2 linked regions of the Homo sapiens genome follow. The protein of the gene in region 1 interacts with the protein of each later gene in a pairwise test. Each region holds a gene or a part of one and is shown on either strand. Other genes may lie near its edges. The genes, in order: NLRP3 and PGM1.

The links.
Region 2: the proteins of NLRP3 (region 1) and PGM1 interact in a two-hybrid assay, tested with the Homo sapiens proteins (one large-scale study listed by BioGRID).

What each region holds. Positions count from the first base shown.
Region 1 is NC_000001.11:247,436,618-247,440,442, forward strand, and holds part of NLRP3 (NACHT, LRR and PYD domains-containing protein 3), read left to right. Parts: intron 1-2,663; exon of another isoform or gene 2,664-2,916; intron 2,917-3,825. UniProt on the Homo sapiens protein: Sensor component of the NLRP3 inflammasome, which mediates inflammasome activation in response to defects in membrane integrity, leading to secretion of inflammatory cytokines IL1B and IL18 and pyroptosis.
Region 2 is NC_000001.11:63,655,816-63,659,640, reverse strand, and holds part of PGM1 (phosphoglucomutase-1), read right to left. Parts: intron 56-3,825; coding exon 1-55. UniProt on the Homo sapiens protein: Catalyzes the reversible isomerization of alpha-D-glucose 1-phosphate to alpha-D-glucose 6-phosphate. The mechanism proceeds via the intermediate compound alpha-D-glucose 1,6-bisphosphate.

The sequences.
Region 1 (3,825 bases):
CTCTCCCAGGTACACAGGCTGGTTTGTTAGTGTCTGTCTTTGAAATGTGGTGCCCAGACCTGATGATGCATGGTGGATGTTTTACCTCCTGTTGCAGAGAACTATGGTTTCACTGGTGGAATCTCTGATTTCCTTGTTTTTTTTGGCAGTTACATAAGCCTTTTGATTCATGTTGGAATTCTGCAGTAAACAGTAGTAGGGAATACCCACTAATAATCATGCACTTTCCCTGTACCACTTTCCTGTATCACTTTCCCTGTATCACCTGCTCTTTCATGTTCTTACATGGATTTTCTCAGTTGGCTTCAGAAAGATGCTATAGGGTAGGGTATCTGTGTCTCCAATTTAAAGAGGAGAAAATAAAATTCAGGGAGCCTCATAACTTTGTCCAAGGACACTCAGAGAGAAGGTAGTGGAACTCAGTGTAGACAAACGTCTGTGACCTCCCAAGCCACTGCCTTAATTCCCAGTGCATTGCCTTAGGAGATGTTGCTAATGGGCTCTCTACAGGGCTTCTTCATCTGGCTCTCAGCTTAAGGGTGGGACCTCCAATTTAGCTTTGCTAAACCTCATCTTACCTGTCTTTTGACCCATTGACTAGGCAGTTTTGAATCTTCATTCTGACAATAATATCTACAAATACAATAAGCAAATTGGATAGGTCTTCATTCATTCACATTATTAATATATATACCAGCCAGATCAGCATTCAAGACAAAATTTGGCAGGAAAGGTCTTCCCAGAGGAGTAATCCACTAATCCATAATTAACAACCAACCTCTGTTCACAAAGCTCTGATACTTCCTTGGACCTCTCCCATCAGCCAATCCTCAGATGTGACCATATCTCTTTCTATGAAGTCTTCCTGCAGTGCCTTCATTTCCTCGCCTTAGGGTATTACCCTTCCTTAGCAAATCGCCTTAGAATATTACTCTTCCTTGGCAATTTGACTTCTGCTTCTCTAAGTTTGTTCAACAGACATGATTTTGTCCCTTCATTTTGCAGGCCCTCTGGGGGCTCTGTGGTGGGCACTGACAGCAGCAGTGAGTAAAACAGACCAAAATCCTGTTTTCACAACCGTTCTTTTAGGGAAGTGATAACAGATAATAGACATGCTAAACAATATACCCTGTGTATAAGAGCTATAAGAAAAACTGGAGTGACGGCGAGGGGTGCTTCTCTGCTCACGTTTGGCGAGTGCCTCTCCGAGCGGGTGACATTGGAGCAGGTGCTCAGTGAAGCGTGGGATGGGCTGTGAAGGAGCCGGAAGAGCCCTCCAGGCAAAGCAGATGGAACCGAAGAGGCCCAGGCGTAGGCACTCAGGTGACTCTCAGTGATCCTGGTTCCAAATTCCACATGACAAACAAGCCAATTACAAATGTGCCTGATGCATCTGTAATATGCTCTATGTAGTTACTATTGTCAATACCTAACCTGGTAGAGCTGCTGTAATAAAGTATCACAAACAGAGCGGCCTAAACAACAAGAGTTTATTGCCTCTCAGTTCAGGAGGCCAAAGTCTGAGACTGAGGCATCAGCAGGCTGGGTCCTTATAGGTCGTACAGGTCCTTCCCAGTCCTTACTTTAGTTGACATCTGCTGCCTTTAATTCATTTCACTCTTCCTCTTTGGAAGCCTTCTTCGCTCTTATTTTTAGGTCACTACTTAGTCTTTCCTGCTAATGTTATAGCTTCCCCCTCCCTGGATCCTGCATTGGCTTCTCTTCCTGTGGTCTGGGGATTTCACGACTGGTTTAGTTGTGTTTTTTTTTTTTTTTTTTTTTTTGAGTTGGAGTCTTACTCTGTCACCCAGGCTAAAATGCAGTGGCGCAATCTTGGCTCACTGCAACCTCTGCCTCCCGGGTTCCAACAATTCTTCTGCCTCAGCCTTCTGAGTAGCAGGGACTACAGGTGTGCACTGCCATGCCTGGCTAATTTTTGTATTTTTAGTAGATACGGGGTTTCACCATGTTTGCCAGGCTGGTCTCGAATTTCTGACCTCAGGTGATCTGCCTGCCTTGGCCTCCCAAAGTGTTGGGATTACAGGCGTGAGCCACACACCCGCCTGGTTTACCTTTTTTGTTGTTGTTGTTACTAAATATTTCTAAACTCCCTGAGAATTCTCATATACCTCTCAATTTCAACAACAGTAGGTCTCAAACCCAGATATCATTCACAAACTTTTTATTAGAAAAGTAACACATGCTTGGTGTAAACATATCATAGTACAGACAAAGTGGAAAGTGAAAGCTCCTTCTCAGCCCTCTTCTGAGAGAGCCATTTACAATAGTCTGATGAACAACCATCCAGACTTTTTTTAATACAATAGATTGTTATATAATCCATTCATCTGTCCATCCATCCATCCATCCATCATCCATCCCTCTATTTTCCATCCGTCAATCCATCCATCCATCCATCCATCCATCCATCCATCCATCCATCAATCCATCCAAGGGAGTATCAGAGCTTTGTGAACATATATTGGTTGCTAATTATGGACAAATGGATTTCCTGTATATGCTGATCTGGGTGGTATTTATATCAGTAATGTGAATGAAGACCTATGTGATTTTCATGTTGCATTTGTAATACATTGTTATGTAGTATTTTAAATGCCTAGTCTGTTAGAGCTACTGTAATAAAGTATCACAAACAGAGCAGCTTAAACAACAGAAATTTATTGTCCCTCAGTTCTGGAGGCCAGAAGTGTGAGATTAAGATGCTAGCAGGCTGGGTCCTTCTGAGGGCTGTGGGGAATCTGTTCATGCTTCTCTTTGGCTTCTGGTGGAATGTCATCTTGCTGACACATTTTGCCATTCCTTGACCTGTAGATGCCTCTGCCACACCATTGCCTTTATCTCTACGTGGTGTCTTCCCTGTGTCTGTGTGTGTCTTTCTCCATGTCCCAAGTTTCCCTGTGAAAGAACACAAGTCATGTTAGATTTGTAACGACCTGATCTTAACTAATTACATTTTCAGTAACCGTATCACCAAATAAGGTCACAATCTGAAGTACTGGGGCCTAGGACTTCCACATATAAAGTCTTAGAGGAAACAATTCAATCCATAACACCCTATCTATTGAAACTAGAACCATAATATAAATATTTTTCTGTGATATCCTTTTTTCATTTATCATGGATAAATTTCCATGCTGATTTGTGTAGATCTATCGATTGGGGCATAATATCCCATAGTGTGCTTTACCATAATTTATTTAATCAAATCATGCATTTTGGGATAACTGTTCTTTTCCACTATTACAAACAACTCTGCAAAAAGCACATTTGTATATATAGTTTTATGCATGTGTATTTGCTTTGAGATAGGTATCTATAAGTGGCATTAATCAGTCGAGACTTTTATGCATTTTATGTGTTAGGTACAGCCATACATGTGGCTGTGTGTTAGGTATAGCCTATGGGTTAGGCATAGCCTGTGTGTTAGGTATAGCCTATGGGTTAGGTATAGCCTACGTGTTAGGTATAGCCTATGTGTTAGGTATAGCCTATGTGTTAGGTATAGCTACATTTTTTTCTCTCGAACTTTGGGTCCTCATCTCTGGCTGCATATTGTGTACTGCCTGTCTCAATACTGCTCAAGGGTCACACATGCTGAGCATTTGCAACATTGGTTTAATTATCATACCCCACCTTCCACCCCCGTTCTCTGACCTGCTCCTGCCCTCTTCCTCCTGCCTCATTGAATAGTGGGGCTTTCCAGGAGGCTGCTGAGTGAGTAAACGGGGGACGGTCCTAAATGCTCTGCTTTCGGTTCCCTCTACCACTCATCACTACACCAGAGGGAACTTTTTAAGATGCAAA
Region 2 (3,825 bases), about 180 Mb from region 1:
TCTCCTGCAGCTGGGACACTTTCAGAGCAATGGAAATAAGGGGGGCCAACATGACCTGAGGAAGACATAGAGAGAAGCTTTTCCATCACTTCCTCTAAACACAGATGCTTAGCTCCAAACCCGTACGTCTGACTGCCTACTTCCAGGTCTCCAAGGCTCCTCAAACTCCACAAATCCAAAAACAAACACATGTTATTTCCCCCAATACCTAGTTCCAGCAGTTTCTATTTCAGTGGATCAACACTACAGTCTTTCATGTAAAGTGAACAACTAGGAGTTGCTCCTGACATCTTCCTCTGCATTTTCCCCATGCCCAGTCCATGAGCAGGCCTCAATGACTTTTCCCCGCTAAATCTCTCTCCATGGCCCCCTTTTCTCTCCACTCTCCTGCTGTTAAGTCTTGCTAAGTCAATGTCCTGTCTCTTACCTGGAGCAGTGAGTGCCTCCACATCCACTTGTGCATCTTCCAATTTCTTTCCCACACTGTTCCCAATGGGACTGATGTGGTTTGGCTCTGTGTCCCCACTCAAATCTCATCTTGTAGCTCCCATAATTCCCAAGTGTTGTGGGAGGGACCCGGTGGGAGATGATTGAATCATGGGGGTGGGTCTTTTCTGTGCTGTTCTCATGATAGTGAATGGGTCTCATGAGATCTAATGGTTTTAAAAACAGGAGTTTCCCTGCACAATTTCTCTCTTTTGCCTGCTGCCATTCATGTAAGACATGACTTGCTCTTTCTTGCCTTCCACCATGATTGTGAGGCTTCCCCAGCCACGTGAAGTGTAAGTCCAATTAAACCTCTTTCTTTTGTAAATTGCCCAGTCTCAGGTATGTCTTTATCAGCAGTGTGAAAACAGACTAATACAGGAATCTTTTTTTTTTTTTTTTGAGATGGAGTTTCACTCTTGTTGCCCAGGCTGGAGTGCAATGCTGCGATCTTGGCTCACCACAATCTCTGGCTCCCAGGTTCAAGCAATTCTCCTGCCTCAGCCTCTCTAGTGACTGGGATTACAGGCATGCGCCACCACGCCCGGCTAATTTTGTATTTTTAGTAGAGATGGGGTTTCTCCATGTTGGTCAGGCTGGTCTTGAACTCCCGACCTCAGGTGATCTGCCTGCCTTGGCCTCCCAAAGTGTTGGGATTACAGGCGTGAGCCACCGCACCCGGCCTAATACAGGAATCTTTAAAAATGCAACAACCCCTCCCCACATCTACTTCTCGCTTAAAGAAAAAAAAAAAAAAGAGAGAATTCTGTTGCTTAATAAATGCTTTCAATATTAAAAAAAAAAAAAAACTACTAATCTGGTTGAACTGCCCATTTTACAGATGAGAAAACTGATACCCAAAGAGATGAAGTGATTTGACTAAATGACTCAATAGCAGAGCCAGGAGTAGTACATTTTCTACTGCTGAATGCTACTTTTTCTTATCTAAATCTCCACCGATCCATTATACCTGGAAAAGGAGAATCAACTCCACCTGCTGAAACTACCACATTTCCCCTTAGGGCTTGGGCAGTCCCCACAAAGTGCTGATGGCCTAGCAGCTGCAGAATAAGGAAAGGCAGCTCCCCGGCTAGATGGTGATACACCTGGGCATTGTGGGAACCTCACACCATCCACTGCCATTCCACCTGCTGAGGACTATGGTTCAGAGGAAACAAATTTCATTCACTCTTTGAATCTACCACGTGCCAGGCATTTATCTTGATGATCAAAAGACAAACACAATTTCCTTCTTCCTTTTCTCTTGTGCTATTAAGTGTCTATAATGCAGACCCCATTGCCTTTGGTTGAAGTTTTAGGGATGCCTACAACACAACAAGGTACTGGTGATGACTGAAACTGGGGCCTGGCCACTGGAAAAAATGTAAAAGTGAAGCATTCTCTCATCTCCCACTTTCTGTAATAAAAGCAACTATACTACTCATGTGAGGTACCTACAATGGTCAAATTCACAGACACAGGAAGGAGAAAGGTGGTACCAGGGATTGTGAAAAGGGAGAAGCAGGGAGGTGCTGTTCAATGGGTACAGAGTTTTAGTTTTGGGGGAAAAAAGTTTTAGAGATACGTTGGACAACAATATGAATATGTACAACATTACTAAACTATATACTTAAAAATGGTTATAATAGCATTATGTTACACTTAAAGTTAGACTAAAAAAACTAAGAGTGCTGCTTATTCTGAAAAGTTAATCCTATATGCCAGCCACAGTGTTTAAACATTTTACATTTATTATCTCCTTAAACCCCGGTAACAACTAGATGAAGTAGGTATTACTCTGCCATTTGACAGACAAGGAAACCAAGATTCATAAAATTGTAACAACTTACCCAGGGACACACAGTTATTAAGTGGCAGGAATAGAATTTAAAACAAGATCTCTTTAACTTTGCTCAAAACCACTATGCCAGGGGTTTCCAAATGAGTTTCACAGGATTTTAATTAGGTGTTAAAAGAAAAAAGCCTTTGTGGAAAAATAAGCATGGCAAATGCTATTTATTTTATTTTACTTTCAATTTTTTAATAAAAATTGTTTATGTTTAAGGTATATAATATGATGTCTTGATATACAAATACATAGTGAACTGATTACTAGAGTCAAGCCAACTAACATTATCAATCTTGTCACCTACTTACCTTTTTTGTTGTGGTGGTGATAGTGAGAACAATTAAGATCTATTCTCCTAGTACATTTCAAGTGTTATTCATTATAGCCATCATGTTGTACATTCCATCTCTAGAACTGCTACATCCTACATAACTGAAATTTTGTACCCTTTGGACCAATATCTCTCCATTTTCCCCATTCACTACCCCCTAGTAAGCCCCTTTCTGCTCTGTTTCTATGAGATTCACTTTTTTTAGATCCCACATACAAGTGAAATCATGCAGTATTTGCCTTTCTGTGTCTGGCTTATTTCACTTAGCATAATGTCCTCCAGGTTCATCCATGTTATTGCAAATGGCAAGATTGGCAAGATTTTGGTTTTTGTTGTTTTAAGGCAGAATAATTTTCCATTGTGGTATACACACACACACACACACACACACACACACACACACCACAATGTCTTCATTCATCTGTAGATGGGCACTTAGGCTGGTTCCATATCTTGACTATTGTGAATAATATTGAATGAACAAGAGAGAACAGATATCTCTTTGACATATTTATTTCAGTTCCTCTGAATATATACCCAGAAGAGGGATTACTGGATCGTATATTAGTACTAAAATATTTTTAACTTTTTGAGGAACCTCCATATTTTGGTTATTCCAAAATAGCTATACCAATTTATATTCCCACCAATAGTGTCTGATGGTTCCCTTTTCTCCACATCCTTCCCAACACTTGTTATCTTTTGTCTTTTTGAGAACAGCCATCCTAACAGGTGTGAGGTGACAGCTCATTGTGGTTTTGATTTTCATTTCCCTGATGATTAGTGATGTGGACCACCTTTTCATACGCCTGTTGGCCATTTGTATGTTTTCTTTGGAGAAATGTCCTTCAGCAAATGCTATGTAAACAGGCACCTTTACTGCAAGTCTTCTCAGCACCCTCTTTTTTTCTTTCCTTTTCTTTTTTTAGAGATGGGGTCTTGCTATGTCACCAGGCTGAAGCGCAGTGGGTATTCACAGGTGCAATCCCACTACTCATCGGCATGGGAGTTTTGACCTGCTCTGTTTCCAACTTGGGCCGGTTCACCCCTCCTTATGCAACCTGGTGGTTCCCCTCTCGGGAGGTACCATATTGATGCCAAACTTAGTGCAGACACCCGACAGGCATAGCACACTATAGCCCAGAACTCCTACGCTCAA